Linked DNA regions of Homo sapiens. The main gene of each other region encodes a partner of the protein of the gene in region 2 in a complex. Each region holds a gene or a part of one and is shown on either strand. Other genes may lie near its edges. The genes, in order: RBM22 and BCAS2.

Region 1 (7,292 bases), on a different chromosome or scaffold from region 2:
AAATAAACCCATGACAACATGTGAAAAATTGACCCGTTTTAATTATTTAAAAACAAAAAACACATCAAATTTCCTTTACCATCTACAATTCAGTTATATCCAAACACTCTAAGACCAAACAGAAGCAGGGATGACAATGAGACACTGAAGACACACGAAGGTGAATGCTGAAGACCATCAGAGTCCCAGCAGGAGGTCACGTCTTTCATTCAGACGCTCCAATGCTTTTCATTTCAGTTTGTTAAAGAACGTGTTTTACAGGAAGTTCTTTACAGTAATTTCATGCCAGACACCAGGTTTCTTCGATGGTACACAGCTCCATGAAATTTGTGTTTCCATCCAGTTGACAGGAATAAAAAGGAATTTTTATTTTTGTCTTTTTTTGGGCCGTAGAGACGTAAAATGGTCAGATTCCTTTAGGAATAAATGAGGAAAAGGAGAGGAAAGAGAAGATCTGGGCTGTGCTGGTGCTGGTTTCTACTCATCTTTCGGAGGGTGTGACTTCAAGAGTTAAATCACACTTAGGCCACTACAATGATTAGTACTAGTTATCTTTTTTTAAGATGATAAAAAGGAAAGTATCCAATGGACATAAAAATGGTCAAAGGTTTTTTTACTGCAGGTCAATTTTTCCCCCGACCAAAAAATATACAAAATGAACATATAATTGGGAGGGTAACTCTGCTGGACATTCCAATTCACTCATCTGCGTGTCCCCCACACGGGTAAGGGGAACAGGCGTTCGGTTTTATTAGTCATGTTACAGCAGTAACCAGATGTGTTAATGGCAGCTTATTTACGGTCCATCGATCCTTTGAACAAGTATAGGAAAGCATGGCTGTCAGTCTCTGACTGCTCACATCTGAGCACATTCAGCTACCATGGAAACTACAAGGGAAGGAAAAATATATTTATTCCAAGATTTACTGGGAGTTTTAAGTGCCCTTTCTTCCACAGAGCCCCAGAGTGGTGACAAGGTGCTAGGGGCTGCTGTGTTTTCCAGCATGAGCTCCCATCCTCTGAGGGTCCTGAGAAGGATAGTGGATTGGTCCTGGAGCCCGCATGAAAGGAGGGGGTGGTCCCATTGGGTGGAACATGTGTGGCCCAAAACCTGCAGATACGAGAGAACAAATGTGTTAGGCTGGTAGTTTCCTTGATAACCTTTCAAACCTCTCAATCTTGCTAAGGTTAAAACCACCTACACATAAATCAAGGTTGACACGGGGCTTAAGCAAATGTCAGTTCACAAACTTACTTCCACTTGTTATTTCCTTGGTTTTAGAAACCTTTCCCCCACAGTCCAAAAAACTCCACAGCACTCAAGGTATCGCCTAGTATGTCATCTGAGTCTCTGCTATGTATCCAACATGCCAAATCCTACCAGACAGGATTCAGTCAGGATTTGGGAGATAAGAAAGAAATCAGGCTGATGGCAAAGACTGTGTCATCATTAACCTCAATGCTTGACACCAGAATGGAGGGTGCTCAGAAACCAGATTCTCTTCAGAGTATGGGCTCTCTGCCACAGGAGAACTGGCTACCTGTGATTTCCTTCCACTGTTAACACTGTCTACAGCAGTGCTATACGAAGTGCCAGTCCTCCACCTATTTCTGGCCACTCAAGACAAAGAGCTTGAGTCAAAATGTAAATTATACGACCAGGCACAGTTTAGTTCATCTGACAGTTTTTTTGGTAACAAGACTTTCTCAATGAAGGAAGGGGTTCACTGATTACATTTTGGCACAAGCTCCTGATCTTGTGGCAGACAGGTGATAAACACTTTGTAAAATGACACCCGCTCACAGCCCACACTGGGCAATAGTGCTCTAGGGCATCCATTAGCATTTAGTTTAGAAAAGGGAACAAATTGGTGATAGATCTTTGTAATCTAATAATCTTACTCTGCTGACACATATACGCGGATCTTTAGAAAACTGGCCCCTTTCTTCTCCTCGGCAGAGCAGGAGAAAGAAAAATTTCAGAAATCCCAACAGATCAACTTTACTGGTAGACTTCTACAGAGCAAACTCACAGGATTTGGATGTGTTGAACATGATGGTGAGGTTTATGAGACAGAACTTTCACAAGGATTTCTCTGGGCTAAGAAGGAAGATGGAAGTTACCTGGGGGTGGGGGTGGAGCAATGCCAGGGGGCGGTGGCAGAGCAATGTTCACCACAGCTGGAGGACCACTTGGGGGCAAGTTGAAGTAGTTGGCAGAGGCTTCTTCTTCTGCTGCAGGAGGAGGAGGAAGAGCTGGAGGAGAGAAAATAGTCAACACATAGAGGGGAGAACAATTGTGCAACGCTGTTTCTACCACCTTTACATTCTCAGAGGTCCTACTGGGAGAGTAGAGCGGCAACATGAACCAGACCTGGGTCCCATCTTCCAAAATAGGAACATCAGGGCAGAAAGAGCTTCTGAAGTCAGCAGGGAGTCTGCACTCACCTCCTGGCAATCCTGGAACAGGTTCTAGTTTGATCCCAGAGTCTGTAGTTCCATCTTTCTCTTTTTCTTTTCCTCTGGCTGCCTGGGATCTGGGAAACACACATGCATACAGTCGGCACTCTGGCCCACCTTATCTCACACCTCTGCTTCTTACATTCCCCAGTCCAATGGAGTTCCTTCGCTCTACCTCCTCCTCAGCACACACTCTTTTCCCATAAATGCCACTGTGCACAGTGAACAAGAGCAAAGGTTTTGACACCAGAAAAGACCTGGGTTCAAAAGCTGCTAGAACTATCATAAGGACCAGAAAAGGCAACACATACGTGTTTAGCACAGTGCTTACCACATAGGGAGCGCTCCACAAAGGCAGATGCTGCTATTAGCCATCACTTCCCTGGTTCCAAGTTGGAGACATGTTCCCCCTTTGAACTGGGTCTTTCACCTGTGTCTCTCTTATGCAATCATCACTTTTAAACTTAAAATAGCGATTCTTCCCTGTTTTATCTTCTCCACTGGACAATCAGCCTCTAAGGGCAGAATCTAGGTCTAATTCATTTATAAACCCTAAAATTCACCTTTCATGGCCTGGCATTATACTTGGCCTATAATAGCTAGTCACAAAAACATGAACCTTCAAAGGAGTAGATTATACACCAACCCCCTGAATACATTTCCAAAGCAGGGTTCTCCCAACATCCACAGGAATCAAGTATCACATAGAGAGTGATCTTTGAAAGATCTCTTTAAAGATCCTGTTCATTTAAGCCTGTTAACCAAAAGCCTACTAGTCTCCAGAAAATGAAATAGTTTCTTAAAAATCTAAGCAAAATGTCACTTAAAAATAGTTTAATTCTCACCTTCCCCATTTCACATTCAGTCTGCGGCCATTTACAATCAACTTATTAAAGGACTTCTCAGCAGCCACTTCTGCAGCCTGCCGTGTGGCAAACTGGATGAAAGCACACTGCTGTCTCTGCACAACAGTGATCGTCCGGATCTCTCCGAACTGGTAGAAATGATTTCTGAAGGGAAACAGGCAGAGAAAAATGAAAGTGGGAGTTAAAAAAGATGTACCCAGGAGACTGAAAATGGATTAACTTTCACTGACACACCACTAGGCAGGTGGGCCCCAAGGTTATCTGCCTAACTACCCGCAGGTCTCCACCCCATATCTTGTCCTACTGTGGGTGCTGCTGATTGAGAGAAGGAAAGAAAAATAATGAGTAAATAAAGGTTCTCAAACATCTCAGGGTTTTTTCCCATGGAGGAAAGGGGGTTCTAATAGGTTCTTTAAAGACCCTAAACCCTAGATAAGAGGTTGGCAAACCATAGCTCTCAAGGCCCATGAGCCAAGAAAGTTTAAAACAAGAATACGTGACAGAGACTGCATGTGGCCCACAATGCCTAAAATATTCACCATCCAGCCTCTTACAGCGAAAGTCTGCCAACCCCTGGGGGTTGTCTAGCTCACTTAGATAGGGTTTAATGGAGACAGGCTACCAAGGGCAGGTTATAAACTTACAGGAGTTTCTTCTCCACTTTATCTCTTTGGAAGAGGTAATTTCCATTACTATCTGCCCAGAAGTCTCATCTAGCCAAGCATAATACAAGCCAAAAATAACACAAATTTATCAAATGCCAGTCTCTTTAAAAACCAACAATTTAAACCACAAGAGTTTTATCATCGCAAAGCTCTCCCTCCTCTACATAATTCATCATACTTGGATGCGTGCCATCCTTTAAAACTTGGCTGTTAGGTCAAATAGAATCCTATGTCATTATTACCATATGCCAGGATGGATAAGCACTCTTTGAGCTTTGGTTCTGAGACAGGGTCTCACTCTGTTGCTTAGGCTGGAGTGCAGTGGTGCAATCACAGCTCACTGCAGCCTTGATCTCCCAAGCTCAAGCAATCCTCCTGCCTCAGCCTCCCAAACAGCTGGGACTACAGGCACATGCCACCACACCCGGCTAATTTTTTTGATTTCTTAGTAGAGATGTGGTCTCACTATGTTGCTCAGGCTGGTCTCAAACTCCTCGGTTCAAGAGATCCTCCCAAAGTGTTGAGATTACAGGCATGAGGCACTGTGCCCAGCCACATAAGCACATTATTACTGTGGCACCATAAAGGACAATTTTACAAAAATTCCAGTCAGCATGATACTAACAATAGAGAGACTACAGAAAAATGTATTTTGTACAGAATGATCATTCTTGCAGTTTTTGCAAATAAATTATTCCAGGGCAGTTAAAGGCAAAAATAACTCTCTAACTTATACCCACAAACCTTAAATCTGTCTCAGTAATGGTATCACCTAGACCACCAACATATAGTGTGGTGATAGTTTTATCCTCTGGTGGGTCCAGCCGAGGCATTGTTGAAGCCCGCTTTAGAAGCTTGTCAGCTACAGGATCATTGATTCCGTAATAACGGTCTTTAATATTCTGATCAGCAAGGGGGTCATCTGGATCTGTAGGCTTCTCATGTCTATGATTCAAGAAAAAAACAAGGCATAAAGGTGAAACGAAGGTGAAAAAATGATTATCTTCCAAGAGTAGCTACATATTAAAGTCCTAGATACATATTCTGAAGTGCCTTTTGAACTAGAAACTATGGTTTCTACCAAAATATAATTACCAAAATAGACCTAATACCAAGAGATTTACTGTATCACGGAAGGAATTACTAGCCTCCTAAAAGCCATTAGGCCATCTAGGATGCCAAACTTTCCTTATAAATAAATACTCTTGACATGATCCACCCCCTCCCGCCCCCCAGAAAGGGACACATGATTACCCCTCTCTAGGTCAATGATTCTTAACACATTTGGGGTGCTGTATTCCACTGAGAATCTGATTAAAGCTATGAACCTCGCCCCAGAGAAAGCACATACATTATTTTTTAGGGGGTGGGGTTAACCAATCCCAAATTAAGAACTCCTAATCCAGATGCTTGGCAGTCTTAACCAAAACATACACACCCTTTAGAAGTCTGACCTTACTTTGACTTCAACTATACATTGAGAGTCAACTCATTTAAACCATGGCAGTGAAGATTTACTTCTCAGGCAGAAATGTTTAGGGTCAGCATCTATATTGTATGGCATAGCAATTTAGTTTCCAAGGCTCAATTGTAAGTAAAAACTACAATTTATTCATGCTCTTCTAAATTTCATAGTTCTAAGACATGAGGTATACCACATTAGTTGTATGACCTTTAGATTTTAAAGCAGAAACAGTTTAAGTTAGGACCTCCCACTTCTTAGATGAGAAATCATCTGAAAGCAAATACTGAAAATGAGGCTCGCTCTTGCCTGTATGGACATTCCTCTCCTCTCTTACACTCTCCTTTCACCCAGAAGGAGCAAATGTGGGGTCGATTCCTTTTGTAGTAGGGTGTGGTCCGGGCCAGTTTGAGCAGCATGTCACTGGTAGATGTGGCTTTCCCCAGCATGCCAACTGGCCGTGTTCCATCAGAGTTAGAAATCTAAGTGGGGATGACAAATTCAAAAGATAAATTATACAGACTGTGTCAATTCATTAGGATTTTTATCCAAAAAGTGGCAGCATACCTCTCTCTCCATATTCTGTGTATAGTACTCTTTGTTGACATCTGACTTTGGCATGTCATCTTTAAAAGACAATCCTGCGTCACGAACCTGGATGGGCAGGCCTGGTACAAAAAAAGAGGAAAAAGACCTCAGATGTATTTTAAAACATATCCATACTAACCATGCACACAGAATACATCATCTTTCCCTTCTCCTCTTTCCTATTTAGTACCAGAGACTTTACTATGTTTTTATTCAAACTCTTTAGCACCATCAGGTTACTTCTGCTACACAGCATGCTAAGAAATTGTCCAAATTCCTGAACTGTCAGGAAATTTGATGAAATTAATGCTTTAGAAAAAATCTTTTAGGCTGGGTGTGGTGGCTCATGCCTGTAATCCTAGCACTTTGCAAGGCTGGAGCTGACAGATAGCTTGAGTCCAGGAGTTCGAGACCAGCCTGGTCAACGTGGTGAAACCCCATTTCTACAAAAAATACAAAAATTAGCTGGGTGTGGTGGTATGCACCTGTAGTCCTAGCTACCCAGGAGGCTGAGGTGGATCACCTGAGCTTGGAAAGGTTAAGGCTGCAGTGAGCCATGACCATGCCACTGCACTCCAGCCTGGGCAACAGAGTGACACCCTGTCTCAAAAACAAAAAACAAAAAAATTATAAAAGAAAATTTTTAGATGAACAAACTGTGCCCATGGTCATATTCAACCTGTAAATTAGCTCCTAGTTTTTATTACAACATGATTTATTTAAAGTAAATGTAAAAGTGGTTTCTTTCTAGGTTAGTCTTACAGATCCTCTGGATAGTCACAGTCATCTAAGGGTCACTGTACTCCAGGACCAGACGCCTCCTTAACAAACATATAAATAATATTACATAAAATGTGGCCAGGACTCTGACTAGAAGAGTAACTCTAATGAACTTAACATACATAAACTCATATATTTTTCCCTTTCCTTTAATAGTAAAAACTCTTGTTGAAAAATTATCTTTCTGAAAAACAGTCACCTATGGTTAAAAAAAAAATTACTCCCAAAAGCAGTTACTCTGAAACAGTAGCAATATATCAGTTCTAACAACACAATTGAAATAAAAGTCTAAAGCACAATTAGGCTGGCTATAGTGGCTCTGGGAGGCCAAGGTGGGAGGACTGCTTGAGGCCAGAAGCTCAAAACCAGCCTGGGCAAAATAGTGACACACACACACACGTGCACTGGGTGTGGTGGTATACCAGGAGGCAGAGGCAAGAGGATCCCTTGAGCCCAGGAGTTCGAAGTTGC
Region 2 (4,851 bases):
AGTAGAGATGACGTTTCACCATGTTGGCCAGGATGGTCTCGATCTCTCGACCTCGTGATCTGCCCACCTCAGCTTCCCAAAGTGCTGGGATTACAGGTGTGAGCCACTGACCTTGCAATAATTTTCAGTCAGTCTTTATACATTAAGACTACCTTGCTTCGTTTGAGACAGGGTCTTGCTCTGTCACCCAGGCTGGCGTGCAGTGTCACAATCATAGCTTATGGTGGCCTTGAACTCCTGGACACAAGTGATCCTCCTGCCTCAGCCTCTCAAAGCACTGGGATTACAGACGTGAGCCACCACACCTAGCAACACTACCTTTTGATATGTTGCAAATATTTTTTCTGAATTGGGCAGGAATCTTTTACACAATTTAATTCCTTACAAGTAGAGAAGTAAGAACATTAACTCTGGAGCTGGACTATTGGGTTCAAAACCTGACTGACAACTTTCTATAAAAAAGCTGACACTTTCAGCTATAAAACTCTGGCAAGTTATGTTATTTAACTGGTGTCTGTTACATGTCCACATATGAGAAAAACAGTAACCGCCTCCTGAGGTTTTTGTGAGGACCAAATAATTTTTATTCACATACATCTAGTTCATCTACCTAAAGTGTTCAGAACAATGTTCAGCACATATTAAGCTTGATATAACTGTTACCTATGATGATGACGATGATGATGATAATGATAACTGTACAGTCACTGTCTTTCTGAAGTTGTTTGGTGATCAAGAATGTGTTTAGAACTATCTCTTTATTAGACAAAGTCATAAACCAAAAATTTCCAACTTCCTGTACATGTTGAAAGCTTTAAATAAGGATCCTTGGATACAAAATATGGTCCACATGGCTGAAAATTAATTCTATGACACAATATTATTCTAAAGTCATCCTTATTTTGAAAGCCTAAAGATTTTCTTTTATGGCTATAAAAATACCACCAAGCTAGACATTTTAATTCTGTTGAGATATACAAATAGAATTACCACAGCAGCCTACACCTTCTATGATTTCTAAACACTTAAACATCAATGGTTTTGGGAAGATGCTGTTGTCCTTCAAAGTTCATTAAAAGTTCAGATGCCTTTTGTGAAAGCCCAACTTTTCTTCTACCTGCTAAATTGTCTTTTCAGAAGTCTTGCCGGATGTTTTCTTTGTTTGCCTCTCCATGTTGCTGCTTAATTTGATAGATTTCATTTTCTAGCTGAACAATAGTCCGTTCAATCTCATAATTCTTACTGACCAGGGATACCCAACTAGAATGGGGGGGAAGAAAAGAAAAAAATTACTCAATGTAAAACTTCTCTTAGAAGATTTTATTTTAAATGTATACACATGTTCACCCAGAGCTATAACACTAACCTTCACTTTTTTTTTTTTTTTGAGACGGAGTCTCGCTCTTGTTGCCCAGGCTGGAGAACAATGGCGCAACCTCAGCTCACTGCAACCTCCGCCTCCCGGGTTCAAGGGATTCTCCTGACTCAGCCTCCCGAGTAGCTGGATTACAGGCACACGCCACCACAGCTGGCTACTTTTTTGTATTTTTAGTAGAGATGGGGTTTCACCACGTTGGCCAGGCTGGTCTCAAACTCCTGACCCCAGGTGATCCACCCACCTCGGTCTCCTAATGTGCTGGGATTACAGGCATGAGCTACCATGCCTGGCCTAACCTTCACTTTCAACTTTCCATTAAAAAAAAATCAAGGCACAATTGTGGAAAAGTAGGTAAAGGGTACATGGAATCTCTCTGTATTCTTTTTTTTTTTTTTTTTTTTTTTTCCAGAGACAGGGTCTTGCTCTGTTGCCTAGGCTGAAATGCAGTGGTGTGATCACAGCTCACTAGCCTGGAACTCCTGAGCTCAAGCAATCCTCCAACCTCAGCCTCCTGAAGAGCTTAGACTACAGGTGCATGCCATCATGCCTGGCTCATTTAAAAGCATTTTTTTGTAGAGACAGGGTCTCGTTATGTTGCCCAGGCTGGCTTGAACTCCTGGCTTCAAGCAATCCTCCTACCTTGGCCTACCAAGGCACTAGGATTACAATGTGAGTCACCACACCTGGCTCTCTGTATTATTTCTTACAATTGCATGTGAATCTATAATTATCTAAAAATAAAAGTTTAATAAAAAAGCAAATTAGAAACAGATGAGAGAACTTGCAAACCAGAAGAAAGAGGAAAGAGTGATGAAGATAGTATTTAATCAACAAAAAGGAAAGAGGCAATAGTTTATTAAATTGAGGAAAAAGCGTGAAAGGGTACCAACGAGACTGGTAAGACGTACATGGAGACGGTGGAACAAGAATGACTTGAGTAATGAAGGGAGAAAGGGAATGGCCAAGCAAAAAGGAAGAGAGAAATGACACAAATATTCAAGATTATATTGTATAAAGGTATACATGTGTGTATGTAAAAGAACATTTTTAAAAATGCATAAACCTGAGGTACAAAAAAATTACCAAGTATGAAATCTCCCTCCCTACAAGATTTTATAAAATAATTTTTTTCCTTTTTTTTTTTTTAAAGACTAGGTCTTGCTCTGTTGCCCAGGCTGGAGTGCAGTGGTGTGATTATGACTCACTGCAGCTTCAACCTTCCAGGTTAAGCAATCCTCCTGCCTCAGCCTCCAGAGTAGCTGGGACTACAGACATGTGCCACCGTGCCTATTTTTTTTTTTTTTCCGTTTAAAAGGAGAATAAAGGTAGAGTTCTATTCAAGGCCAAAAATACTAGACTAAAAACAGGGTATTCTAAGACCAGAATCCTTTAGCAATGGTTCAATTTAGCAAAGGATCCTTCGCCAATGGTTCAATTCTCGTTTATAGTTCTCTTTAACACCTTATAAAGAGGCAGAGACGGGGAAGGGTGAATTCAGAAAATAGCATTTCTTTGTTACCTGTGGCATCCCATTTGAATGCTATTTGAATCATATTATTGAATCGACCTTAGAAAGGGCTAAACAATTTAAAAGATGATGGAATTATAGATACTCACTTTGACTCCATTTCTCTCAATTTAGATCCAGCTGTGAGTTGCATGTTCTTTCTCTGCCAGTTTAAATCTTGAATATGTTTTCTGTAAAAAATTATTTATACAACCCAATTACATTTTAATGTAAGACCTAAATCAACAGAAAACTCTATAACACAAGAGAATATCTTAATCCCATGAGAACAATATTATGTACAGTTATAGGCTAACTGTAGAAATTACCTTTCTTCTAATTATTTTTTGATTACAAGTTTCATAAAACATGCTCATTGTGAGAAATCACACACACACACACACACAAGCACACACAGATTACAAGTCTCAAGTCCCCCCTCTCATGCATGTCTCCTTTTTCCTGATAACTCCTGTTGAGTTTTTGCTGGGTGTCCTTCCAGGCTTTCCTATATGTGTGTGTAGAAATTGGTTTTAAAAATCAGATTATATGTGTTATTCTGCAACTTTTCCCACTCTAAAAGTGCCTTTCTATGTTTGCAGACTTGCAAGCTGCAAGTGGCAGAGATGTTTTCAGACCTCAGGCCTATTTCTCCTCTACTTAGGTAGGGCAAACCCAGTGTCAGATGTTGAACAAAGAGAGTGGATCAATTGTTTACTTTCATCTGGCTGCAGTCTCTTTGCTTTCTTTTTCCTCCTATTTTCTATTTATTAAAGGTTCACTTAAACTTCATTCTGTAATAGGAAAAAACAATTTACCTTAACTTCTGAAGTTCCTTCTGTGCGTGTTCAATCATATGAACTAGATTTCTGAAGGAAAAGAGGAAAATCAGATTAAAATACATTAAAATAGTACCAATTAAAAGTGAACTTTTTCAAGTTTTTCTGCCAAAAATCATATTTATGGAGCTCTGTGCCAAGAACTATGTTGGACACTCCATAATCGAGGACTGTCACTCATGCTGGAATGCAGTGGTGTGATCATGGCTCACTGCAGCCTTCACCTCCCATGATCAAGTAATCTTCCTGCCTCAGCCTCCCAAGGAGCTGCAATCCTCCCACCTTGGCCTCCCAAACTGCTGGGATTACCATGCCCTGCCTGATCTTGGAGTACTTAGGTTACTTTTTTTTTTTTGAGACAGTCTCGTTCTGTTGCCCAGGCTGGAGCGAAGTGGTGAGATCTCAGCTCACTGCAGCCTCTGCTTCCTGGTTCAAGAGATTCTCCTGCCTCAGCCTCCCAAGTAGCTGGGATTACAGGCATGTACTGCCATGCCTTGCTAATTTTTGTATTTTTTTTTTTAGTAGAGATGGGGTTTCACTATGTCGGCCAGGCTGGTCTCGAACTCCTGACCTCAAGTGATCCATCTGCCTCGGCCTCCCAAAGTGCTGAGATAACAGGCGTGAGCCACTGTACCCAGCTTTTTTTTGCGGAGGGGAGGGACAGAGTCTTGCTCTCCTGTTGCTCAAGCTGGAGTGTAGTGGTGCAATCATGGCAGCCTCAACCTCCTGGGCTCAACTGATCCTCCCACTTCAGGCCTTCAAAGTAGCTTGGATTACAGGCATAAGCCACCATGCCCGGCTAATTTTCATTACTTTTTTGTAGAGACAGGGTTTCACCACGTTGTCCAGGCTGGTCTTGAACTCCTGGGCTCAAGCAATCTCCCCACCTCAGCCTCCAAAGTGTTGGAATTACATGTGTGAGCCACACGGCCTTTTGTCACTTCTTAAACTGTCATGACTTCTTGTCATAGAAAAGATGGAATATATCTGAGTACCCACTTATTTTATTTCTCAACCCCCTTTTATCTCTATATTTCTGCATATACATTCACCTTGTCATTCTCTCCTCCTGTCTACTGCTAACTAGAGAGAGGTGAGAAAAAGAAAACTGTTGTAGAATGAGATAT

The links.
Region 1: BCAS2 (region 2) and RBM22 share a complex: the UniProt entries of both Homo sapiens proteins name them as parts of the postcatalytic spliceosome P complex.

The regions. Positions count from the first base shown.
Region 1 is NC_000005.10:150,690,771-150,698,062, forward strand, and holds the end of RBM22 (pre-mRNA-splicing factor RBM22), read right to left. Parts: intron 6,122-7,292; coding exon 6,021-6,121; intron 5,936-6,020; coding exon 5,763-5,935; intron 4,937-5,762; coding exon 4,736-4,936; intron 3,471-4,735; coding exon 3,306-3,470; intron 2,538-3,305; coding exon 2,449-2,537; intron 2,257-2,448; coding exon 2,125-2,256; intron 1,112-2,124; coding exon 981-1,111; 3' UTR 22-980; downstream 1-21. UniProt on the Homo sapiens protein: Required for pre-mRNA splicing as component of the activated spliceosome. Involved in the first step of pre-mRNA splicing.
Region 2 is NC_000001.11:114,566,997-114,571,847, forward strand, and holds the end of BCAS2 (pre-mRNA-splicing factor SPF27), read right to left. Parts: intron 3,755-4,851; coding exon 3,704-3,754; intron 3,077-3,703; coding exon 2,996-3,076; intron 1,261-2,995; coding exon 1,134-1,260; 3' UTR 561-1,133; downstream 1-560. UniProt on the Homo sapiens protein: Required for pre-mRNA splicing as component of the activated spliceosome. Component of the PRP19-CDC5L complex that forms an integral part of the spliceosome and is required for activating pre-mRNA splicing.